Homo sapiens: one gene and its partners. The protein of the gene in region 1 interacts with the protein of each later gene in a pairwise test. Each region holds a gene or a part of one and is shown in the gene's direction. Other genes may lie near its edges.

What was found.
Region 2: the proteins of SMAD9 (region 1) and TINAGL1 interact in a two-hybrid assay, tested with the Homo sapiens proteins (one large-scale study listed by BioGRID and IntAct).
Region 3: the proteins of SMAD9 (region 1) and SVEP1 interact in a two-hybrid assay, tested with the Homo sapiens proteins (one large-scale study listed by BioGRID and IntAct).
Region 4: the proteins of SMAD9 (region 1) and ZNF557 interact in a two-hybrid assay, tested with the Homo sapiens proteins (one large-scale study listed by BioGRID and IntAct).
Region 5: the proteins of SMAD9 (region 1) and ZNF592 interact in a two-hybrid assay, tested with the Homo sapiens proteins (one large-scale study listed by BioGRID and IntAct).
Region 6: the proteins of SMAD9 (region 1) and FLI1 interact in a two-hybrid assay, tested with the Homo sapiens proteins (one large-scale study listed by BioGRID and IntAct).
Region 7: the proteins of SMAD9 (region 1) and EXPH5 interact in a two-hybrid assay, tested with the Homo sapiens proteins (one large-scale study listed by BioGRID and IntAct).

The regions. Positions count from the first base shown.
Region 1 is NC_000013.11:36,878,739-36,882,238, reverse strand, and holds part of SMAD9 (mothers against decapentaplegic homolog 9), read left to right. Parts: intron 1-1,461; exon of another isoform or gene 1,462-1,950; intron 1,951-2,363; 5' UTR 2,364-2,549; coding exon 2,550-2,961; intron 2,962-3,500. UniProt on the Homo sapiens protein: Transcriptional modulator activated by BMP (bone morphogenetic proteins) type 1 receptor kinase. SMAD9 is a receptor-regulated SMAD (R-SMAD).
Region 2 is NC_000001.11:31,583,015-31,586,514, forward strand, and holds part of TINAGL1 (tubulointerstitial nephritis antigen-like isoform 1 precursor), read left to right. Parts: intron 1-134; coding exon 135-227; intron 228-446; coding exon 447-561; intron 562-1,663; coding exon 1,664-1,787; intron 1,788-1,871; coding exon 1,872-2,022; intron 2,023-2,136; coding exon 2,137-2,326; intron 2,327-2,425; coding exon 2,426-2,471; intron 2,472-2,738; coding exon 2,739-2,862; intron 2,863-3,500. UniProt on the Homo sapiens protein: May be implicated in the adrenocortical zonation and in mechanisms for repressing the CYP11B1 gene expression in adrenocortical cells. This is a non catalytic peptidase C1 family protein.
Region 3 is NC_000009.12:110,576,942-110,580,948, reverse strand, and holds the start of SVEP1 (sushi, von Willebrand factor type A, EGF and pentraxin domain-containing protein 1 precursor), read left to right. Parts: upstream 1-1,207; 5' UTR 1,208-1,405; coding exon 1,406-1,936; intron 1,937-4,007.
Region 4 is NC_000019.10:7,068,299-7,072,502, forward strand, and holds the start of ZNF557 (zinc finger protein 557), read left to right. Parts: upstream 1-1,404; 5' UTR 1,405-1,475; intron 1,476-2,263; 5' UTR 2,264-2,355; intron 2,356-4,204. UniProt on the Homo sapiens protein: May be involved in transcriptional regulation.
Region 5 is NC_000015.10:84,793,592-84,797,091, forward strand, and holds part of ZNF592 (zinc finger protein 592), read left to right. Parts: intron 1-3,500.
Region 6 is NC_000011.10:128,753,072-128,756,571, forward strand, and holds part of FLI1 (Friend leukemia integration 1 transcription factor), read left to right. Parts: intron 1-3,500. UniProt on the Homo sapiens protein: Sequence-specific transcriptional activator. Recognizes the DNA sequence 5'-C[CA]GGAAGT-3'.
Region 7 is NC_000011.10:108,506,769-108,510,268, reverse strand, and holds part of EXPH5 (exophilin-5), read left to right. Parts: coding exon 1-732; 3' UTR 733-3,500. UniProt on the Homo sapiens protein: May act as Rab effector protein and play a role in vesicle trafficking.

The DNA.
Region 1 (3,500 bases):
ACACACACACAGCACATACCTGTGAATGAAAATTTTTCATGAAATGATTATTATTATACTTATTTTTCGTCAGCTGCTCTGCAATAAAGTCTGTTTTGTTTTGTTGTTTGTGCAAAAGCTGTTTTGTTCCAATTCATTGATTTCACATGCCATTGGTAAATAGAAACCCACAGTTTAAAAAAACGAACCAAACAAAACCTGGTTTAGGGAACTGTTGTTTCATGGAGCAAAAGTTTCTAAAAGGTGTATTTGGTTTAACTCGCTGAGTGTTTTTATAAAAAGCTTTTCTCTATGACTGACCTCAGCTTAAAGATCTATACCACAACTTACTAATAATGAGTTCCATGTAAAACTAAGCAGAATTCACAACTCTTTTGGGGTTCAGGTTATTCTATCATGAGACTTCTCCTTAAAGCTTCTAACCCTCTTCAGCCATTGCTTTAAGGCAGCCTGACTAGATTAAGTAAACAGAACTTGAACACAATGACTTAACTATACTTTATAAATTCATGATTGTTAAGCCACAAAATCAACCTTTCCAAATAAAACTGAGTGTAAGTCAAACTGCCAAGCGAAAAGAGCAGCTATGGAGCTCTCAACTCTCCCTTTTGTCATAGTTTATCTCTGTACAATGCCAGATAAAGCCCAGATGAGGAATAAAGTGATGTGACTATTGCTTTATACTTATTAAATCTCATCCGTTATTGTGGGACCATGCTGCCATCCTCCTCACCTGAGGTGCCCGATAATGATCACCCTAGCGGGGGGTTATAAGGCACCTTTGTTCGAAAGAAGTTTATAGAATTGGACTCAGAAAGGTACAGCTTGCCCTCCAGGGAAGCAAAGGAGAAAATTATATTTAATGCATATTAAACAAACAATTGTTGGAGATTATAAGCTACATCGATTCCAAGATCCCAAAATACTTGAGTCAGCTTACTCCAAAATGTTACCAGCCAGCCACTTTAAACATTAATGAGGTAGCTGGTTTCTAAAATCTGGAAGGAGGAGGAGGTTTTGTTTAAGCCAACTATTTCACAGAAGAGGAAATACAGTTCGACCTCAGGAAATTTAAATGAGACTGCTGAATAACTGGGAAAGAACATCTCCTGTGGATGACAGGGCAAAGAAGAATTAAGCTGATTTTAGGCCAAATAACAAATGTGACAGCTGTGCTTTTTTGTGTATGTATTGGTGTGTGATAGTGTATAATTTCTAGAAAAGCAGTTCTCATGCATTTGGGTCTTGAAAATTTCCACTTTTAAAAATTATTGAGAACTCCAAAGAACTCTTGCTTCTGTAGGCTGTATCTATCAATTTTTACCATTTTAAAAATTGAAACTAAGAAATTAAAAAAATATTGATTGAATCATTAAAAAAACTGTATTAACATAAAATATTTTTATTTAAAACATTGTTTTCAAAAAAGTTATTGAGAAGAGTATTATTGTTTTATATTACTGCAAATCTATTTAATACTTGGCTTAATAAATGGCACCTAGATTGTCATCTTTTCTCCATATACTCTATTGTGTTATGTTGTTTTGGTTGAAGTATGTGAAGCGAAGTTAGTTCACACAAATAAGTAATTGGAAAAGAGAGAACCTCATAGTCCCCTTAAAAGGATCTCAGGGGACTCCCAGGGATCCTTGGGGCACACTTTGAGAGCCACTGTCCTGAAAAGTAGTTTGGAAGACTATGTTAAGAATGGCTGTCCAGGAGTGGTGAGATTATTCACGATTCTTTTTTTCTTTTCTTTTCATTAGTATTTATTTTCTACAAGAAGATGGATTGCTTGTGCAAACTAAAAATGAGAAAGAAAGAACATACTCATGTTGAGGGCAGATTATGGAGGCCCTGGAAAAACCCAGGCAGAGGAGTTTACACTTGGGAGACCAAGGAGCCACTGTCATTTCTTAAATGGGAAAATGATAAGAGCTGTGTTTGGGAGTAAGTGAATTCGAATTGAAAGAGAGAAAGAGAGATGCTACTTCAGAGAAGTGGTGTGGTGAGTCAGACCTCAGGTGTTGGCAGAAATGGAGAGAAAGGACAAACTCCAAAGACTTTGAGGGCAGAATGACCTGAGACCTGGATATAGGAAATACAGGAGAGGGCAGAGTCAAAGACAACAGTTTTAAAATTAAAACATTTGAAGAATGTTTTTTCCCTTCTATCCAACTTTGGGGCCTGGTTCTGTTGCTCAGGCTGGAGTGCAGTGGCGCAGCCTTGACCTCCTGGGCTCGAGCCATTCACCCACTTGAGTAGCTGGGACTGTAGGTGTAGATTGCCTCTTTCTATCCAACTTCAACTTTTTCTGAATGTTACTCCGATTAAGCTAATTGAAGTCTTGTCGTGTTTTCCAGAGTTGGCCACCCTGTTCAAGGGCTTAGGAGAAAGTCAACACACTTCGCAACTTGAATTGGTCCCAGCTGCTCCCAGAAGAACGGGCGGGTTGGTCCCTATGCCACCCCTGGAGAGCTACTCGCCGCCCACTTTGCCGTGAAGGGCTGTGCGGTTCCCGTGCGCGCCGGAGCCTGCTGTGGCCTCTTATGCACTCCACCACCCCCATCAGCTCCCTCTTCTCCTTCACCAGCCCCGCAGTGAAGAGACTGCTAGGCTGGAAGCAAGGAGATGAAGAGGAAAAGTGGGCAGAGAAGGCAGTGGACTCTCTAGTGAAGAAGTTAAAGAAGAAGAAGGGAGCCATGGACGAGCTGGAGAGGGCTCTCAGCTGCCCGGGGCAGCCCAGCAAATGCGTCACGATTCCCCGCTCCCTGGACGGGCGGCTGCAGGTGTCCCACCGCAAGGGCCTGCCCCATGTGATTTACTGTCGCGTGTGGCGCTGGCCGGATCTGCAGTCCCACCACGAGCTGAAGCCGCTGGAGTGCTGTGAGTTCCCATTTGGCTCCAAGCAGAAAGAAGTGTGCATTAACCCTTACCACTACCGCCGGGTGGAGACTCCAGGTGGGTCGTCTTTACGACGTCAAGGTTTATTTTCAGAGTGAAGGTCGTGTGCCCCATTGATGGAGAATGATGGGGCACCAGCAGACAGGGACCTCTCCCAAAAGAGAGAGAGAGAAGAGAGGAGAGGGAGGTTCAGTTTTGAGGGACTCGTCCAAAATTTTGTTTCCCGGAATGAGGCAGCTGTCCAATCAAAGAAAGTTCCCATGAAAACGATATTCCTGCCTGGAATGCCACAGGAACACTCAATCCAAAGAGAATCGCAGTAAAACCCTGTTATAGCCAGTGTGAAGGAATGAAGATAAACTAGTCAGGAAAATCTAGAAAGAAGATATTTTCATTTGATTTCATTATGCTGGTAAGCTTTGTGTGATTTTGAAAATGAGGCAGATGGCTAATCGGAGAAAACTGCCATAAAAGTTTTATTTTGAGGTATCTGGGACAAGTCAACATAATCTTTTACCAGTTCTTGGGGTCCTGAAAGGTTTTAAAATGGCCTTGATAATGATGAGCTGTAAAAATTAAACATCCTCCTCCCCCCG
Region 2 (3,500 bases), on another chromosome or scaffold:
GGATGGGATCACCTAGAGATTCTCCCACAGTCACTTGCACAGACTCCCTGGCCCATGTTAACCTCCGAGGCCACATTCCTTCAAAGTATCCCCAGTCCCCCACTTACCCTTTCCTTCTCTCCTTTTCTCACCAGCACCTGCCAGGAGAACAGGCAGTGGCAGTGTGACCAAGAACCATGCCTGGTGGATCCAGACATGATCAAAGCCATCAACCAGGGCAACTATGGGTGAGAGGCCCTAGAGGCACCCTCAGTGGGCACACATGCATACTCATGCATGTATACACGCATGCTGTGCTGTGGGGCACGTCCAGCAGGCCACTCCTACACCCAGATTTGACTGTGTGTGCGCTCAGCCACTGTGCGTCTCTCCCACCCACATGCACCCACGCCAAGGACCCTGAGCCTCGGCAGATCTGTGACTTCCTTCCGTCCCCTCTCCTTCAGCTGGCAGGCTGGGAACCACAGCGCCTTCTGGGGCATGACCCTGGATGAGGGCATTCGCTACCGCCTGGGCACCATCCGCCCATCTTCCTCGGTCATGAACATGCATGAAATTTATGTAAGTCCATCCTTCCCCACAATGCTGCCATCTCCCCATGGCTCAGAACCTCAGGGATGCTGGCCCTGTGCCCTGCTCCTCCAAGGGCCTGGACCATCCCCTACTACAAGGCTGTGTGTCCCTGGACAAGTTACTCCCCTTCTCTGGGCCTCTGTTCCCTGCTTCCACAGGATGTGCTGTGCTGGAAGAACTGATGCTCAGATTGAATTTCGTGGTCTTGGCATCAGCTCCCCCCTGATCTCTCCAGCCTGGGAAAAATGCTGTTGGTCTCAGTACAGCTGGGTTAGGGCCCAAGGGGACAGGGGGTCACCTTGGTATTTTGGGAAGGGAAGGACACACACTCCTCCAGTTCTGGCCAGAGGGCAGCAGTTCTCGGAAATAAATGCCGGTTCAGCGGAACCCCAAGGGAGGAGAGGGCTTCTCCCTTCCCACCAGTGGGACCCTCTGGGAGAGGAATGAAAACCAGGCCCAAAGTGAAAGGGTGAGGAAGGGGAGCTTCAGCAGGCCTGGACCGGGACATGTGCCGGAGCATTTGTCCATCAGTGGCAGGCAGCGGGGAGGCAGGGGCTGGCAGGAGTGGCCCTCCCTGCGGAGACTTCGGCCTTGGGTGACCAGACCCTGGCCCTGCCCTTATTCCCCTGGGCCTCTGGCTATTTTCTGCCTCTTGCTGTTTGTGTTGGCAGACTGCCTGGTCACGGGACCCTACTGCCTCTTCCCTCCCCTGAGGGAAAGCTAAGGCCTGAAGAAAGCTAAGGCCGATCAGAAGGTGCAGAGGAAAGAGGCAGGGGTTGAGAATGGAAAGCTGAGGGACCTGGCCTGGCCACTTCTCTGTGCCTGGCCTCAGCTGCCTCATCTGGGAAGCAGGACTAGTCACCACCGCCACCCCGCCCCGCCCCACCACCTGATACCTGGGAGGCACTAAATGGTGCTTGGTTCTTCAACACAAGTCAAAATTGGAGGCAGCTGGAATCCTGCAGCAGCAGGAGGGCTCAAGATTAAACTGCAGAAGGCCCTGGACTTGGTGGCCCTCCAGTGCCAATGGGCACCTGAGGGGCAGGCCAGGGCAGAGCAGGAGGCAGACAGGGCAACCTTTATCTTGCAGACAGTGCTGAACCCAGGGGAGGTGCTTCCCACAGCCTTCGAGGCCTCTGAGAAGTGGCCCAACCTGATTCATGAGCCTCTTGACCAAGGCAACTGTGCAGGCTCCTGGGCCTTCTCCACAGCAGGTAAGCCAAGGGCAAGGGCTGGCGCCTGGGAGAGGAGGGCCAAGTCCTGAGCCTCCCGACAGCCCCTCTATCTCACCCCACCAGCTGTGGCATCCGATCGTGTCTCAATCCATTCTCTGGGACACATGACGCCTGTCCTGTCGCCCCAGAACCTGCTGTCTTGTGACACCCACCAGCAGCAGGGCTGCCGCGGTGGGCGTCTCGATGGTGCCTGGTGGTTCCTGCGTCGCCGAGGGTATGCAGCAACAGGGGATGTGGGCAGAGAAGAGGGCAAGGAGCTCCGTGGGCATGGCCTGGGCCATGATGCACTGAGTCTTTCTGCCTTTGCTCCCTCTTGCTGCCTTTGCAGGGTGGTGTCTGACCACTGCTACCCCTTCTCGGGCCGTGAACGAGACGAGGCTGGCCCTGCGCCCCCCTGTATGATGCACAGCCGAGCCATGGGTCGGGGCAAGCGCCAGGCCACTGCCCACTGCCCCAACAGCTATGTTAATAACAATGACATCTACCAGGTCACTCCTGTCTACCGCCTCGGCTCCAACGTAAGTCAGCACTTGGGTGAGGGCGCCGAGGCAGGAGGGTTGTGAAAGCCTGGAGTCTCACCCCTGACGTATGCTCTCTGTCCATCCCCTGCCCTCCAGGACAAGGAGATCATGAAGGAGCTGATGGAGAATGGCCCTGTCCAAGGTAAACCCCCTTATCCAGCACCCTGGTTCCAGAAGCTTGTGCCTGCTTGAGAGTGGGCACAGTAGCACAAGTGGCCTGCACAGCATTCAGCAGCATGTCCAGTAGGGCCAGGAGTAGGGGTCCCCCCCTCCCACAGGCAGCACCTGGAGGGAGCACTTAGAGCTTTGGTATGGAGGGACCCTGGTGCCTGGGCACATCTCAATAGACTCAGGCTCCAGTGCCTGTGCCAACGGGCTGAGTGGACCCTACCTTGACATCTGCCCACAGCCCTCATGGAGGTGCATGAGGACTTCTTCCTATACAAGGGAGGCATCTACAGCCACACGCCAGTGAGCCTTGGGAGGCCAGAGAGATACCGCCGGCATGGGACCCACTCAGTCAAGATCACAGGGTGAGGGGCGTGTGGGCAGAGGGGGTTTGGGACAGCAGGGTTTGTGCTAGGGGCTCTGGAGCCTGCCTTGGGTTCTTACAACCTCTCTAAAAAGCCAGGACTGCTCTCATCATTTCAATAGGGAGAAAACTGAGACTCAGAAAGAGAAAGGACTTGCCCTGGGTCGAATTGAAGGTTGGGAGCCTCTGAAGGCTTTTTTAGGAACTGTTCCTTCCTTACATTGGGATAAAATAACTCCAATATGAAGAGAGCCTCAAGAGTTTCTCAACCTCTCCCCACCTCAGCACCTGTCCCAGCTCTGCCTGACCCACCGAGTGACCTGGGAGGTCGCTCCCCTGGCCTCAGTTTCCCTATCCGATTTAGGGAATATAGATGTTAGGATCACTGACTTCAATGAACTCGGTGAAATGTGCTTTACGGTGGGAATTGGCGGTCTCTAAGATACCCATATTCTCAGAGTGTCTTCCTTCTGGCCCTTGGCACCTACCCCTCCCTGGATCCCCAAGTGAGGGAGGGCAGGTGGATGTGTGGTCCCATAGAACTGGCCCCTAGGAGGTGGGTCTCTGGAGGACCCAGGTTCCCTCCTCTTCTGCTCACCTTGCCTCCACTTGTCCCCTTGGTGCCCCACCCCCTCCCAT
Region 3 (4,007 bases), on another chromosome or scaffold:
CCCAGCTGGAATCTTTTAACCAAAGGCCCCACCCTCATGCAAAGTGCACCTTTTCTTTACACGTGCGCTCTCCCCTTTGGAGGTCTTGCTTTGGAAAAACCACCCCAGGTAGCAACTTGTTTCAAAGCAGATATATGCCAGGTACCACTTAAAGCCAGGTGGATCTTATCTGTTGAAATAGATCAAGAACACATGAAAGGGGACTGGGGACCCCCTACTTACACTTCAGACTTCAGCACAAACTTTCTGTCCTCAGAGAAGGCTTCTCTGGCCTCTCCAAGGTCAAGTCTGTCTACCTAAGCTCTCCTTTATTTAGCATGGTCACTTGTAATTACATATATTTTGTATGTTAATATCTGGTTAATGGTCACCTCACTTGTTACCCTTTAAGTTCATTGAGGATAGAATCCCTGTCAATTTTTGTTCCTTATATTTGCAGTGCCTCACATAGTTCCTGGCACACAATGGGTATTCAAAAAATATTTGTTAAAATCAGGAAAGAATGAACAAACAGATGAATGAATAAATGCACGACTGAAGTACCATGACAAATCATTCCTGTGGAACGCATAAGGTTAGATGCAACTCCTTTATGGTGTGATCTGAGGGGGCCCTTAAGGGCTTAATCTGCACGCTCACACACACCACTGATTAGAAATCCCCATCAGGAAAATTGTACAATCATCTATTTGGCGAGGGCTTTGGGACACTGAATGGGGGAAAAGAAACACAAAAGGTGAGCAAGCAGTTTTCAAAGGATGCTTTCAACTCCCTGGCCAGTCCGCGTGTATGTTTTCGTCTACAAAGTGTTTCCAATTACTGTGGCACTCTCGGTATCTGGATCCATCTCCAGTGAATTCCTCTGCAGCTCCTGCCAGACATATGGGATCAATCAGGGCTTCGGCGCTGGTGCGCTTGCTGCGGGAATGTTGACAGCCTGACAGACGCGGGGTTCTGGTGTCATGGAATCTCCGAGCCTTTGGCTTGATCCCGGGAGGAGAATGAGAGGGGGAGGAGGGAGATAGAGTCACAGATACAGAAAGTAGACAGGAGCGGGGAGAGGGAGAGAGGGAGAGAAGGAGGGAAGCGGGAGATTTTTCTTGACTGCCCCCTTTCCTTCAAACATTTTATAGGCTTCAGGGAGAGAGAGGAGGAGGAGAGAGGGAAGAAAAAAAGAGGAGAGCGAGAGGGGTAGAGAGCGCGCGCCGTTCCCTCCGGAGTTCCCGAGCTGCTGAGGAGTCTGGATTGTGTCTGTCCCCAGTGTCAGATGAAAGGGCGCTGAGGCTCTTGGCCGCTGCCCCGCGCCCAGCTCCGCGCACGCCCCTCTGCGAGTCCGGCCGCCCAGCGCCTCTTCCCGCCCGAGCCGCCGCCTGCGCTCCGGGGCAGCCGCTCTGTCTCCAGCGCGATGTGGCCTCGCCTGGCCTTTTGTTGCTGGGGTCTGGCGCTCGTTTCGGGCTGGGCGACCTTTCAGCAGATGTCCCCGTCGCGCAATTTCAGCTTCCGCCTCTTCCCCGAGACCGCGCCCGGGGCCCCCGGGAGTATCCCCGCGCCGCCCGCTCCTGGCGACGAAGCGGCGGGGAGCAGAGTGGAGCGGCTGGGCCAGGCGTTCCGGCGACGCGTGCGGCTGCTGCGGGAGCTCAGCGAGCGCCTGGAGCTTGTCTTCCTGGTGGATGATTCGTCCAGCGTGGGCGAAGTCAACTTCCGCAGCGAGCTCATGTTCGTCCGCAAGCTGCTGTCCGACTTCCCCGTGGTGCCCACGGCCACGCGCGTGGCCATCGTGACCTTCTCGTCCAAGAACTACGTGGTGCCGCGCGTCGATTACATCTCCACCCGCCGCGCGCGCCAGCACAAGTGCGCGCTGCTCCTCCAAGAGATCCCTGCCATCTCCTACCGAGGTGGCGGCACCTACACCAAGGGCGCCTTCCAGCAAGCCGCGGTAAGGCGCCCGCCCCTCCCGACCCGGGCCCTAGTCCCCGGGCCCTTCGACCCACCGCTGCCTGCCCGTCTCTATCCCGGGGTTCAGTCCTGGGCAAGGCATAACCACCCCAAGTCAAGCGTCCCCATCCACAAAACCAGAGTCATCGCTACCCGCCTATTATTGTTGTGGAGGTTCCAATGGGATAATGGATTTTAAAACGCTTAGAGGGATGTCAGGCTCCTTAGATAGTCGGCTTCGAGGACCCTGTTAGGAAGGGATCCTTGAAACGCTAATCACATTCACGTTTGTAGGAGCAGACGGTATCCAAGCTGAAACAGGTGAGCATGGTTTACAAAGTGTTTCTAAAGGTAGGACATGGAGTGATATAAACCTAACCCCAATTCTTTTTAAAGTTATGTTATGCTTTCAATGTAAGATTCGTGCCCTTCCTATTTTTGCTCCAATCCTTTATTAGATTTTTAATATCTGGAAGAGGAAGTCAGTTTGGGATGTCGGACTTTTGTAAAGTGTGTCTGTTTTTCTGATTACAAATTAATCCATATTCAGTGGGGGAAAAAGAAACATATAGAAATATCTAACACATAATAGCAAGCCAGTGTTTGTGGACTGAATTAAACAAAAAGTAGGGAGAGGAAAAAAAAACCCTAAAATTTCATCACTTTAAAAAAGCCACTGTTTGCAGGTTGTTGAACAGTTGCCCAGTATGTACATCCATTCATACTTTTAATATCTTGCTGTTTTGTAGCCTACATTTTTCGTTTGTTATATCCTAATTAAAATGTTCTACATTAGCTGCATACTATTCCATTGCGTGCAACAATCACTTATTGTTGGACACTTAGGATTTTTCCTTACTAAGTTATCGTGAACATAAATATTTGTGGACTCCTCTGTTTACATCTTTAGGAAGAATTTCTATAAAAGTTCCTGAACTAAAGGTTATGAACATTTGTAACTTCTTGATACTATTGTCCATTTCTCCCTTGGAGGGTTGTATAAATTTATATTCTCATCAGCAGAGTATCTCAGCAGTAAATTTGCCACATATTCACCAATATCATACTATTCTTTTTAATATCTTTGTCAATTTAAGAGGTGATGGAGGCATCATTTTAGCAAATACACATTTTTGATTTTTGAGGATGAACATTTTCCAGTACATCTACTGGACATTTGTATTTTTTCCTCTGATATTTATAGTTTTTGCCCATTTTGCCATTATAGTGCTTGTTTGTTTTTTCTTAACACATTGGCTTGTTTTTTTTTCTTAATGATTTGCAAAAGTTCTTTATATAGTGAGGCCAGTAATTCTTTTGTGTATATGTTGCAAATGTTTTTCCAGTTCACTGCCTTTTATTTTTGTTTATGGAAATGTTGTTAGATGAATGGTTTACATTTTTATACACTCAAATCTATCAAACATTTTCCTTAAGATCCTATATTTGTTCATAGTTTTAGAATAGCTCTCTCATTTCCCAAATCAGAGAAATAGTTTTCCATGTAGCAGCTTAATCCATCTGGAATTTATTTTTGTGTATGATATGACAAAGAGGTCTAACTTGATTTTAAAAAATAAATAGTTAACCAGTTGTCCCAGCACTACTTGCTTAATAGCCATCTGTCCTTTTCCAATTTAATTGAATGTCATGTTTATCATGTGCTAAATGCTTATGGGTATTTGATCTCTTCCTGGCTTTCTATTTCATCCCATTCTCTATCTCATTTGTATCATTGCCAAAATGTTTTAACTATTGTAACTTTACAACATATTTAAATATCTGGTAGTGCAAATTCTCCTTTTAAAAAATCTATTCTTTTTCTAGTTAATTCTTACCCACTTATTATTTAATATGAATTTTAAATTCATTTTTACATATTACCAATGAAGTCAGTAAGGATTTTGATTTCAATATAGAAAATATTGAATTAACTTGGGGATTATATGTATTTTATAGTAATAATTCTTCCATTTCAAAAGTGTAAGACCTTATATTTTCTCAAAGTCTTAGAATAGCCTTCTCATTTCCCAAATCAGAGAAATAGTTTTCTATTTAGCAGTTTAATCCAT
Region 4 (4,204 bases), on another chromosome or scaffold:
ATCTAAACCTTAGCCAGACATGTAACAAGTAGTATGTCATTAATAATTTTTTCTCATTTTTTCTTTTGATCTCTTAAATTTTAAAATTTCCTTTTTTATTTCTTCCTATGAATCCAACACCTATTTTCTCCACCAGAAATGTAGTTCTCTTTTCAGTAGATCCAGATGTGCACTAGACAATTAATCAGCTTTGGCTTTCACTTGGAGACATCCCTCCCTAGTCCTCCCTCCCCTCGTCCCCCTCTGGATGGGAGAAATATGCATACATGATCCCATTTTTGAAAGAAATTAGGAAGCTCAAAATCACACAAAAAGGCTGGGTGTGGTGTGGCTCACACCTGTAATCTCAGCACTTTGGGAGGCCGAAGTGGGGTATGACTTGAGGCCATGAGTTCTAGACCATCCTGGGCAACACAGACCTCCTCTCTACAAACAAATACAAAAATAGTCAGGCTTGGTAGTGTGGGAGGCCCGGGTGGAAGGATGGCTTGAGCTCAGGAGGTCGAGGCTGCAGTGAGCTATGATTGCACCACTGCACTCCAGCCTGGGCCACAGAGTGAGACCCTGTCTCAAAACAAACAAACGAAAAGCCACACACACACACACACACACACACGCCCTAAATGTGTGGCTATATCATTTTAACAGGCGGTGAATGTGGAGAAATGACTGAAGAAAACTTTAAAGAGTTCATTTTGCATCCTGCTACCTGAACAGTTTTAAAATCCACAAAAAGCCCTACACCCAAAAACTGACCTCCACCAAGTCTTGTCCTCTCAGCCTACTAGCTCAACCCCATTCCATGCCCCACCACTGCCTTATCTTGTCCACATACTCGCCCACCAAACCTGGTATTAACCCACAGCAAGATCCGCCCATCAAACCTAATGCCCGCCCACAACCTCGCCCCGGAACTTAGTCTCTGTCCTGACAGCCCCGCCCCCATGCCTGGTACCGCCCACGGTCCCGCCCCAGAACTTCTCCCCACCCCCGGAGCTGATCTCCACCCACACTCAGCCCTGCCTCCAGGCCTGGTACCGCCCACAGCCCCGCTCCAGAGTTGGTCCCCGCCCCCGGAACTGGTCCCCGTCAACACTCAGGCCCGCCTCCAGGCCTGGTACCGCCCACAGCCCCGCTCAAGAGCTAGTTCCGCCCCCAACCCTGCCACAGACCCGCGCCAGGACGACCCTGCCTCCGCGGCTGTCCCTAGCCAGGGCCCAACCTGGTTCTATTAATAACTAAGCAAACTAGAACACCTCAGCCGGAGGCTGGGGTGCGCGGCTGCTGCACCTGCAGCCTGAACCCGGGGGTCCTGACACGCCGCATTTTGGGCTGGGACCAGCTGGAGCCGGAAGCGGAGGTGCAGTGTGGCTAGCCGGAGACCGGAAGCGGAAGCGCGCTTGTGTCTTGTGAGAAGAGCCGCGCTTGCAGCGTCTGGGAGAATCTTTCGGTCTCCGCGAGAGGTGCTTCATTCCGTGAGTCCGAGTCCAGAGAGGGGCCCCAGCCGCGGGCCTGCGTCCCTCCCGGGAGCCGGGTTTCCGCCCCTGAGGCCTCGGGCTGTGCGCTCAGTTAAGCCCGAAGCTGCTGTTTCCTCCGGTGTCCGGGCCCCGCGCCCCTGTCATCCTCACTCTGTCGTCCTCACCCTGTCGCCCTCACCCGGGGCGATTCTGCGCCCCAGGGGACTTTTGGCTATAGTTGGAGACGGTTTGGGATGTCACAAAATGGAGGGTAGGAGGGACTGTGCTACTACTGTAATCTAGAGGGTGGAGGCCAGGGATGCTAGCAGCTCAGCATCCTGCAGCGCGTAAAGCAGCCGCCGCCAGCAAAGACTCATCCAGCCCCAAATGTCATTAGTGCCCAGGTTGGGAAACCCTGCTGGAGGGCATTAAAATCTCTGCAGTCCTGAATACACTGTAGAAATTATTTAGAATTCAGCCGAGTCCACTTATAAGGCCTAAAGTGACGAATTTAAAGCATCTGGAGTCACCATACAATCTCCAGCCAAATGAGTTAAGCAAGTCAGATGAAAACAGCTTTAAGCTTCTTGTCCCATTTTAGGGACCAGATGGCTGGATAGGAATCTGGTGAATTCAGGCACAGCCAGTAGCCTGGGTTCTTATTCTTTAAATCAATTTTTTTTAAGTGAATGGGGTGGTCTTTCTATGCAACAACTGTATTAGTCTCAGTAAATACATTTTACTATACGTACATATTACTCCCTACAAAAGGCCTCATAAGCGATTTTTGTGCCCTTTTTATTTAGACGAAAAAAGTATAATTCAAGCTCAGATTTGTGTTGAAACCAGCCTCAAGTTTCACCTATCCTCACTGATCCGTGGACTTCTGTATGATCAGGTAGGTACCGTGTAGAACCTGCAAGTTGCAAGACTCCACTGTGTAGAAAACCTGTGAATGGATTTTTCCTGTGTTCAGGTTGTAAACACAAGGACTCACTAACAGTGAGGGTATTTTTTTTTTTTTTTTTGAGACAGAGTCTCACTCCGTTGCCCAGCCTGGAGTGCAGTGGTGCGATCTCAGCTCATTGCAACATCTGCCTCCCAGGTTCAAGCAGTTCTCCTGCCTCAGCCTCCCAAGTAGCTGGAATGACAAGGGTGCACCACCACGCCCAGCTAATTTTTGTATTTTTAGTAAAGATGGGGTGTTGCCATGTTGGCCAGGCTGGTCTCGAACTCCTGACTTCAGGTGATCCACCCACCTCGGCCTCCTAAAGTGCTGGGATTACAGGTGTGAGCCACGAGTGAGGGTATCTTAAAAATTATTTGTTTGATGCCTTATATTCAAGAGAAGGATACTAAGGGGTGTGTGATAATGTGTGTCAAAATAAGTCAGTAAATACAGCTATATGCAAATCAGTACACAAAACATGTAAACACTATTTAAAAGTTTTTTTTTCAACCTTCCAAGACATCTCAATTTTTCTTTTATTTTTTTCTTTTCCTAACAGGCCTGCCAGCCTGTAGACTTATGCTGTATAATAAGGTAGCTGCTGGTCCATGCGGTTGTTTTAATTTAAATGTAGACCAATTAAGATTCCATAAAATTTTAAATTCAGCTTCTCAGTCGCACTAACCACATTTCAAGTGCTTGACAGCGACATGTGGTTAATGCCCCTATTGAACAGCAAAGATTAAGATCATTTCCATCATCCCAGAAAGCCCTGCTGGGCGGCATTGTTCTAGTCTCTTCCCATCTGTCCATTGCAATGAAGCCAGAACGGCTATTGTAAAAGATAATTTGTGGCCAGGAGCAGTGGCTCAAGCCTGTCTGTAATCCCAGAACTTTGGGAGGCCGAGGTAGGTGGATCACCTGAGGTCAGGAGTTCAAGACCAGCCTGGCCAACAGGGTGAAACCCCGTCTGTACTAAAAATATATAAATTAGCTGGGTGTGGTGACTCTCTTGAGCCTGGGAGGCGGAGACTGCAGTGAGCCAAGATGGCACCGCTGCACTTCAGCCTGGGCAACAGAGCAAGACTGCATCTCAAAAAAAAAAAAAAAAAAAAAAAAAGCTGGGCATGGTGGCTCACGCCTGTAATCCCAGCACTTCGGGAGGCCAAGGCAGGCAGATCACGAGGTCAGGAGATCGAGACCATCCTGGCTAACGTGGTGAAACCCCGTCTGTACTAAAAATACAAAAAAAAAAAAAAAGATTACCCGGGCGTGGTGGCAGGCGCCTGTAGTCCCAGCTACTCGGGAGGCTGAGGCAAGGGAATGGCATAAACCCGGGAGGTGGAGCTTGCAGTGAGCCGAGATCATGCCAGTGCACTCCAGCCTGGGTGACAGAGCGAGACTCCGTCTCAAAAAAAAAAAAAAAAAAAAAAATACAGCCAGGCACAGTGGCTCACACCTGTAATCCCACCACTTTGGGAGGCTGAGGTGGGCAGATCGCCTGAGGTCAGGAGTTCGAGACCAGCCTGGCCAACATGGCAAAACACTGTCTCTACTAAAAATACAAAAATTAGCTGGGCATGGTGGTGGGCACCTATGATCCCAGCTACTCGGGAGGCTGAGGCAGACAGAATTGCTTGAACCCAGGAGGCGGAGGTTGCAGTGAGCCGAGATCTCACCATTGTACTCCAGCCTGGGTGACAGAGCAAGACTGTCTCAAAATAAATACATAAAGATAAATTTGCTTTAGTCACTCGCCTGCCTGAAAAGCCTTTGCTGGCTCTCCACTGCCTCTCAT
Region 5 (3,500 bases), on another chromosome or scaffold:
ATACACAACACTACAGTGTTCATAACAGAGTTGTGCAATCACTACAAACAATTTTAGAGCATTTTTACTATCCAAGAAGAAACCTCATATCCACCACTTCTTTCTTCCCCCCTAGCCCTAGGCAATCGCTAATTTACTTTCTGTCTCATAGCTCTTCTGGACATGTCATATAAGTGGAATTATGTAATATTATTAGCATATTTGCAAGGTTCATCCATGTTGTAGCATATATCAGTATTTCATTCCTTATTATGGCTGAGATTCCATTGCGGGGATACACCATGTTTTGTTTATCCATTTGTCAGCTGATGGACCTTTGGGTTGGTTTCCCCTTTTGGCTTCATGAATAATGAATAATATGAATAATGCTGCTGAAGAACATTCATGTACAAGTTATCATGTGGACATGTTTTCAGTTGCTTTGGATACCTAGGAGTAGAATAGCTGGGTCAAATAGTAACTCTGTAGGGAGGGGAACATCACACACTGGGGCCTGTCAGCGGGTGGGGGGCTAGGGGAGGGATAGCATTAGGAGAAATACCTAATGTAGAAGACGGGTTGATGGGTGCAGCAAACCACCATGGCACGTGTATACCTATGTAACAAACCTGCACATTCTGCACATGTATCCCCAAACTTAAAATATAATTTTAAAAGAGGAAAAAAAGTAGTAACTCTGATTAACTTTTTGAGAAACTGTCAGACTATTTTCCAAAGTGACTGCAGCGTTTTTACATCCCCACCAGCAGTGTATCTAGGTTTTGATTTCTGTACACCCTTGCCAACACTTGTTATTGTCTTTTTGATTGTAACCATCCTTATGGGTGTGAAATGGTATCTTGTTTCCCTGATGGTTAACGGTGTTGATCATGTGCTTATTGGACTCCAACTTTTTTTTTTTTTTGAGACAGTCTTACTCTGTTGACCAGGCTGGAGTGCAGTGGCGCTATCTCAGCTCACTGCAACCTCCGCCACCCCGGGTTCAAGCACTTCTCCCACCTCAGCCTCCTGAATAGCTGGGATTACAGACGCCCACCACCATTCCTGGCTAATTTTTGTATTTTTAGTAGAGACGGGGTTTCACCATTTTGGTCAGGCTGGTCTTGAACTCCTGACCTCAGGTGATCCACCGACCTCAGCCTCCCAAAGTGCTGGGATTACAGACGTGAGCCACTGCTCCCGGCCTGGACTCCATCTTCTTTGGAGAAATGTCTGTTCAGATAATTTGCCCACTTCTGAATTGGGTTATTTGACATCTTATAATTGAGTTGTAAGAGTTTTTTATATCTTCTGAATACAAGTTACTTGTCAGATTTGCAAATATTTTCTCCCATTCTGTGGATGTTAATTTTTTTAGTAAATTCTCAAGATACCTATGTTCCATTTTATTGAACTCTACTACAGAGTTTTACAATATTATTTTATGTTTTGTATTATTTTTGCTTTTACTTGATAATGTAAAAAGCCTATATATGGTTATTTATATAATATATAAGTATATAAAATTTATATGTATTTTATGTAAAATATGCATACACATATATTTCAGAATTTCATAAATTATTCTGTTCTTTATTAATAATTTGGAGAATGGCTAATGATGTCATAAGGATGCAAGTTTAGACTGTTTTAATGTTATTTTCTTATTTGTGATTATTAAAGTTAAATATGTTGTTTATTATCTTTTCTAAAACTACATATTTCACAACATATGATTCCATAATTGTCTATCTCGTCTTAAAAAACTGTGGTCAAGTGCGGTGTCATATGGTTGGCACTCTTTTCTGCATACTTTCTCATCAACTTGTAAACACCATTGGATTCAGTCCTTCATTGAGGATACTTTGCATGTGTTCTTACTTTCAATGAGGTTTCTCAAAGAAATGTCTACCAGATACATAGAAGGAGTTTTCAGTAGCATTCGAAAAGAATGTATTTCTACTATTTCTGCAGGAGTTTGGTCAAATGGCACAAATAAAGCCACTTAAGAGATTCTTTACACATATCAGATGTACTTGGCCACTTTGGATGAATGTGGAATTATGTGCTTTTTTCTCCTCATAATACTTTGTAGTGTGGAAATACTTCTGTGTGCTAGAAGTTGGTTTCACTCTTCTGTTTAGCAGGAGAGAAAGGAAAATTAAGTAAGTAACTTGAATAGAAACCCTAATTTAAAGCATATACAAATGTAGTAATGAATGCTCTGTGGAGTTTATCACAAAAAGCTTTCTGGTTCCGTGGGCTGCTCTTCATTGCTAATTAAATTTTCGAAGGTGATTCTCTACCCCTCCCTTCCAATACACACAAGGAAGAAAAAAGATTGTTCAGGATTCTGTGGGGATTTATGTGGGCCGTGAAAATGTATCACGCCTGTAATCCCAGCAATTTGGGAGGCCGAGGTCAGTGGATCACCTGAGGTCAGGCGTTCAAGACCAGCGCGGCCAACATGGTGAAACCCCGTCTCTACTAAAAATACAAAAGTAAGCCGGGTGTGGTTGCAGGCACCTGTAATCCCAGCTACTTGGGAGGCTGAGACAGGAGAATCGCTTGAACCCAGGAGGTGGAGGTTGCAGTGAGCCAAGATTGCACCACTGCACTCCAATCTGGGTGACAAAGCAAGACTCTGTCTCAAAAAAAAAAAAAAAAAAATATATATATATATATATATATATATTTTATATATATATATATATATATATATATAAAAAAACGAAGGGTAACATTCAGGAGTCAAATAATTCTTAAATGAAGGCACGCCTTTTATTTTAGCAAAGCACCTGCCTCTCTTTAGTGCCTATGGGGATGTCAATAATATGAGGGCAGACAGTATTGCAACAAAAGGAAGATAAAAAGGAAGAGCAGAGAGGGAAAAGATGTTTTGTCATGTAGGGGAGACCTATGTGTGTTCTTGGGCAGGAGGAAAGACTGAACACAGGAGAGGGACTAGTAATCTTATGGATGCAGGTTGGCATGGAGGAAGGTCATATTATTCTCTGATATCGATAAAAGGAAAGGCAGTATTTATAGAGAGATGTTGTGAAGTTGAAACAAGTTCCATACGGCCTCAATTTCAGAAAAATGGTTTAAGACAATTGTTTATCTTATTTATGCATTGTAAAAAAAAAATCCACCAAATAAACTCAGAAAATACAAATTGGTAGGGAGAAAAAAAAATGAAAAGTTATCCCCATAGTTCCACCAGGAAGACATCACAGCACTTTTGAGCTGCATGGTCCAGTAGAGTATAGTATAGTACCAGCCATTTGTGGCTACCGGGTGCTTGAAATGTGGCCAGTGCAACTAAGGAACTGAATTTTTATTTTTATTTTTTTGTTATTTAAATAGCCACGTGGCCACATGAACAGTGGAGCTTCCCCCGCTCCCCCCCAAGAGACAGGTTCTCACTCTGTCACCCAGGCTGGAATGCGGTGGCACAAACTCGGCTTACTGCAACCTCTGCCTCCCGGGTTCAAGCAATTCTGCCTCAGCCACCTGAGTAG
Region 6 (3,500 bases), on another chromosome or scaffold:
GCTGGGGCACTTCCCTGCCTGGAACAAGGGACCCTATGCCACCCTCTGGATCTAGGACTCAGTGGCTCTGGACCCACAGACCCAGCCTTTCCAGCATTCTGCAAAGGAAAGTGCTTCTCAGAAGCCAATGACTAAGCCAGCCCAGGGGTTCCTTTTACAGAGACAATTGTTGGGTCAAGAAGGAACCCCAGAGCTGAGCCCCACATAGGGCTAGGAGCCCACGCCTCCTGTCTTTCTCACTTGGAAGTCAATTTTACATAGCATGGTCTAAAGCCTCATGGACCCCACAAGTCTTTTAAATAATAACTAACTTCTCTTCCCTTGAATAAAATAATCAGCAACAATAGGAGAAGCAAAGTCATGAGAAACGGAAGGAATGTAGTCCCTCTGAGGATGGCTGGTGAATTTGCATGCTGGTGTTCTTCCTACACCCAGCCTATCACCTCAGTTAAGTACTTATTGATGATTTATCCGTGGAAAGTTCTTGAACGCTAGCAACATGCTCATTTCTGTAAAGAGCTTGAAGTACAAGGAAGAGTTTTAAGTTTAAACTTTAAAAAGTTTTAAGAGTTTAAGTAAAGAGCTTTATAAGACACACATGAAGTAGCAACAGCTCCTCATGTGTAACAAGCTGCAAATAAGTGAAATTTCTGCCAGCTCAGCAGCTCCTCGCCTGCAGACAGCAGCAGCCACATCAAGTTGCCCAGACTCATTCCTCTTGTTTGCCTCCTCCGTCCCTACTCTGGTCTTCCCAGAGCAATTTGGAGAGGGCTCCCTACTACCAGTGGCATCATAAAAATGACAGTGTACTTGCCAAGGGCATGGTCTTGGGGTGCTCCTAAAGCTGTTGAACTGCAAAAAGGGGTGCCGTTTATTTGCAGAAGCCACAAGAATGCTCTCCTCCCCAACTCTGCTCTTTCACTTGGGTCTCAAATCAGCTTGTCTGGGGCCTTATCTCCCCAAATCTTTTATTCCACTTAGGGGCCCTCACCTCCCTTCCCTTGCCCATATTGGCTTTTCAAATTCAGCCCAGTGAGCCAGACAGGGAACTCTTCTCCTTCATCTTCTCTCTCTTCACAGCCCCCATGATCTATCTCTTCTTTTCTCTACATTGTAATGGAAAAAAAGCTTTTTGTCTAGCCATGATTGCAAATAGAAGGGGGATGTGTGTGTGTGTGTGTGTGTGTGTGTGTGTGTGTGTGTGTGCACATATGCATACCCAAAGCAGTATTCTCACGAGCTGTTAACAGCTCAAAGGAGTCATAGGTCATCATCAGAAAGGTTTCATGGAAACAGGAAGCTCTCAGGAAGATCTCACTTACCTTACACAATGGCAAAGATAATTGTGCATCAGGGTGAAAGAGTAAAGAAAGGTTACTTGCAGCAAAAGGAACCACAAAATTAAGGCACAGAAGCATACCTGAGTAGGGCTTGTCTAGTGGAGCAGTGAGAATAGTTAGAATTGGACACAAGTTGCAGCAAGAGGAAGTTGTGCAATGTAAGTGTGGCAGGTGGGACAAAGATGACCTTTGGAAGACAAGTGGCTGAGAAGAGATTTGCTGTGGTCCATCTCTAGGGAGCTCTCTGAGGTTTTTGAGCAGATTGTGGCAGGATGACAGCAGTATTCACAACTTGCAAGGGAGCTGGATCCAGCCAGGGAGCGCACAAGGTGTACTGAATGAGGGAAGAGCATGTCAGTGGGTCGTCAGGGAGGGAAGAGTCTCAGAGAGAAATGCCCAGACTGGACAGAAGTGTGAGGCATTCCCGGTGAACCGGGACGCTCTCCTCCTACAATGTTGCCACTTGATTGGAGTTTCCTTGATTGTGAACTACATTCTTAAGGAAACTTCTATTCCAAAATGAGTTCAAACTGGTTTTGTGCCCTTTCTACACCTACACTCTATCTCATCACTTGTTTTTTTCTAGCTGTGTACCACTCACTTCCTTAAGAAGTCTCTCCTGGGTCTGCCTCCAGAACCGCTGGCTTTGTGTTCTCTGTGTATTCTCTTTGCTGTGAGTCTTGATTTTGCCGTCTGCATGTCCCCTTGGCCAGGACAATCCTGTGTTCCCTGTTGCCTGGTCCACCCTCCTTAGGATAATGATGGGAGGAACTTTTTGCCCATCTATGGAGCATCACTGTGCCCAGCCCTGCCTCCCGGGCTTCTTTGCCTCTGATATTCTGTCATCTTCTCCCCCAACCTAGAAGAGGGAAGGGAAAGAAATTATTTTACTGGAAACTCCAAGGTTCATGAATGATAAACTAAGAACGTAAGCCATTCTCTACAGCAGAAGATGCTACCTGATTCCTGAAATGTCATCTGTTTTTGTAGCAGGACTGTGGTACATGTTCTTCACTCTTATCACCAAAAGACACTTAGGGGTCATAGGTGGTAATGTGTCCTCTGCTTCCAGTGCGGAGCTCAAGGAATTTCATGGAGTCAGGGACAGCTGTCTGAAAGGTTGCAATGTCACCCTTTTCAGCTCAGAACCATAATTCCTTGAGCCCAGATAACAGTTCAAAATTTAGGATATGAAGCCAAAGCTGAACTCTAGCTGAAATCAAGAGTGGATATAATAACCAAGAAACAAATGGTTCTGACAAGCACAGCTTTACTCTGAGCATGACTCAAGGGCATCTGGTAGAAAATGAAGAAGGATCCCAGCAGATGTTAGGGCTAGGGAGATCCCCTCGGTTGGGGGATGTAAGTGTTTTAATATTGTGTGGGCAACTCTGCTTTGAATGTATGTCTGGAGGCACCTACACCATCCAAAGCCTTCTGGTGCAAAAGCAGGACTCCTAGAGTATATTCCAGTATTTTTTCCCTGATCCCAGCTGAAAACAGCCATAGAAGAGCCTCCCTTTTTGAATTATGGCTGTCTGTCCGCTGGGGTGGAGAATGGCCCTGGGAGACAAGAGACAGCCCATGGAGCAGGTTGTAATTCTACAGGCATATGAAGAGCATTCATTCTGAAGAAGACATTCAATTCAGGAATGTGAATTACACAAGGAAGGTAGACAAATCCCAGCTTTAACAAGTGCTGTTCACCTATCACTACATTTTCAAGTAAAGGTGGTGTATCCATTTGCTAGGGTTTCCATAACAACATACCAGGGCTGAGTGGCTTAAGCAAAAGAAATTTATTTGCTCAGAGTTCTGGAGACTGGAAGTCCAAGATCAGGGTGCCAGCAGGGTTGGTTTTCCTCAGAGGCCTCTCTCCTTGGCTTGCCAATGACTGCTGTGTCCTCACATGGCAGCCCCTCTGTGCACACACTCCCCTGGGGGCTCTCTGTGTGTCCAAATTCCCTCTTCTTATAAGAACACCAGTCATATTGGATTAGAACCCACCCTATCAGCCTCATTTCACCTTACCTCCTTAAAGGTCCTATCTCCAAATACAATCACATTCTGAGTACTGCGGGTAAGGGCTTCAGCATATGAATTTTGTGAGGACACAAGGCAGCCCCTAACAGGTGGCCTAAGAGAATCTTTGTTTGAATG
Region 7 (3,500 bases), on another chromosome or scaffold:
GACAATCAGAGGAGGCTGAGCCCTCCTTTTCCACTGGAGCCTGCACAGAAATCTAGAGTAAGCAGTCCACTGGCCAGTTTTCTGCAGCAACAAAGGAGTGCTTCATCTCTGGAGTGGGAACCTGAGCCACACCTCTATCGTTCAAAGAGTTTAAAAAGCATTAATGTTCATGGCGATCTACTACGAAAAAGCCATCCTCCAAAAGTCAGGGAGCGCCATTTTTCTGAAAGCACTTCTATTGACAATGCCCTGAGTCGACTGACCCTTGGGAATGAATTCTCTGTCAACAATGGGTACAGTCGAAGATTCAGATCTTTTTCTGAACTCCCCTCCTGTGATGGAAATGAAAGTTGGGCTTATCGCAGCGGGACAAAAACAGGTCCCAGGTCTGCAATATCTATATACAGACCTATCGACTATGGGATCTTTGGGAAAGAACAACAGTTAGCTTTCTTAGAAAATGTAAAGAGGTCACTTACACAAGGAAGATTATGGAAACCAAGTTTTCTTAAGAACCCTGGCTTCCTAAAAGATGATTTGAGGAACCCTCCCAACCCCTCAGAGTCATTAAGCTCAAATTCTCCCAGTAGTCAGGTGCCAGAAGATGGCTTATCTCCAAGTGAACCGCTTAATATCTATGAGGATGACCCAGTGGACTCAGATTGTGACACAGACACAACCACAGATGATGAATACTACCTGGATGAAAATGACAAAGAGTCAGAACTGTGAGGCTTTTTCAATAAAATGCTTTACTTTTTTCACCAAAAGCTTATAATGGAACTAAGGTGTACATGTGCATGTGCATGGAAGGATAAAAGATCTAGTCTGGGCAGTGTCTGCTCTGAAATGTCCCACATCTCCTTTTTTTTCCTCCACACCCTATATAGACACTTCCTGAATGCTAGAACAATGAATTCTTGTTTTGAGAGAGTCTCTGCTATTTTCTATCTCTGTAAATGTTCTTAGCCTGCCTTTCCACCACTCCCACTTAATCCCTGATTCACTGTCTGATTTGGGCTTTCTGCTTTACTTCCCTCCTAACATTTTTCATCTTTAATTGTGATTTACAACCCTAATATCCCAGGCACATACAAAACTTATGAATTACCCAGCACAACTGTGAAACTCTGTATTGCTTCTTCCGGTCCACACCCTATACTCATGACATTAAATAAAAGGTAGGGATGATAACAGTGGGGTAAATATTATCATCCTGTTTGACTCATGAACATTTAGGAAGTTTAAGGTGGTGATCTTCTCTTTCAAACAAAGATAAAGGAATTTATTTTTTAACCTGAGAAACTGATTGCAAAAAGGAAAAAAAAAAGATAAAGGAATTTTGTAAGTACTTCCTGTTATATCCGTAGTGGAGCCTGGGAGGCACATGGTCAAAGCACATGTTGAGGTTATAGATTAGGACCTGAATCCCTAGTAAGCCAATAGAAGGTTAGCAGTCCTAGAAATTCCTCTGAAACCGTGGGGGACTGGCTGGATTATTAAGGGCTTTTAGTCAAGCCAAGGACTTAGGCCAGGCAACCTGACCATACAGAAAGTTGCCTGGTCACAGAATTTCTGCTTATGAAGAGAACATAGCTGAGGAGCAGAGGTAGGAAGTAGGTATCCCTTCATGGGACCGACTTACCTTTACTGCAGTTCTCTCAGCAACTGGCTTTTCCCATTTCCTCAGAACTATCCATTTTCACATTTTCTTTTTTTTGTTTTTGTTTTTTGTTTGGTTTTGTTTTGTTTTTGTTTTTTGGAGACGGAGTTTTGCTCTGTCACCCAGGCTGGAGTGCAGTGGCATGATCTGGGCTCACTGCAACCTCCGCCTCCCGGGTTCAAGCGATTCTCCTGCCTCAGCCTCCAGAGTAGCTGGGATCACAGGCGCACCCAGGCGCACGCTGCCACGCCCAGCTAATATTTTTGTATTTTAGTAGAGACGGGGTTTCACCGTGTTGCCCAGGCTGGTCTCGAACTCCTGAGCTCAGGCAATCCGCCCACTTCAGCCTCCCAGAGTGCTAGGATTACAGGCATGAGCTACCATGCCCAGTCTTTTTTTGTTTTGTTTTGTTTTTGTTTTTGTTTTGAGGTGGAGTCTTGTTCTTGTTGCTCAGGCTAGAGTGCAATGGCATGATCTCAGCTTACTGCAACCTCCTCCTCCCAAGTTCAGGCAATTCTCCTGCCTCAGCCTCCCAAGTAGCTGGGACTACAGGCACCCACCACCACACCTGGCTAATTTTTTTTTTTTTTTTTTTTTTTTTGGTATTTTTAGTAGAGTTGGAGTTTCACCAGGTTGGCCAGGCTGGTCTCAAACTTCTGACCTCAGGTGATCTGCCCACCTCGGCCTCCCAAACTGCTGGGATTACAGGCATGAGCCACCGTGCCTGGCCCACATTTTCTTTAATTGCAAGGTAGAACGCTTCTTTTCAGGTGGGGCATTTTAGTCCCAAATATCAAGTGGGAACCTTGGCCAAGTCCCTAAAATGCCATCAAGTCAGATCTGACACCCTGGAATTCATTCTTTGCTGCAGGATCATCTACGAAACCCTTGGGAAATTCTAAGGCAGAGCTCCTAAGGGCTTGTCACTATGATTCAGTGATTTATCTAGAGTAAATCACTTATGATACCCACTGATATTTTGGCTTTCCTAACTCTTTATTTGCCATGCAGAACCTCGGGGGATTTCTCTCCTAATTCAGGATAAAGACCAATAGATGGCAGTGAAGATAATCTGCTTTAACTACAGACAGCATGGATTCCTGGATCTCAATACTATGATAGTCAACATGAGTGGATTTTATCTTGCTTGGTTTATATTTGCTTCGCGACCTAATCTAATTTTCCATTTTTTATACCTAGTCTGTTTCATCATTATAAACTAAGAATAATGATAGATGTTGGTGAAGTGTATAGAGATCTGGAACTGATAGAGAGTTAAGAAAGAACTATGTTGTTGTTATCCTTCTAATCATTCCCTTACATAGACGCAAAATGCGTGGGTTACTTTACATGGTTCCCATGCAACTCAAAGCTAATGAACATGCGGTAACTAACATGAAAGCTATTCCCTAAATCTGTCAACTATTTTAAACTTCAAGCTCTGACCAATCCTGAGCTCAGAAAGCTCAAAAATCAAATATTGTGAACTTTTCAATGCAAATTTGTATGGTAAAGAATAAATAACACTATTTCTTGGTTAATATATGTTTGTAAATTCTGCCTTTCCTCTTTTTCTATTTATCTGATTATTATTATTATTATTATTATTTTCTTTGAGACAGAGTCTCACTCTGTTGCCCAGGCTGGAGTGCAATGGCGCAATCTCGGCTCACTGCAACCTCCGCCTCCCAGGTTCAAGCGATTCTCCTGCCTCAGCTTCCCGAGTAGCTGGGATTACAGGTGCCCACCACCACGCCCAGCTAATTTTTGTATTTTTAGCAGAGACGGGGTTTCGCCATGTTGGCCAGGCTGGTTTCGAACTCCTGACCTCAGGTGA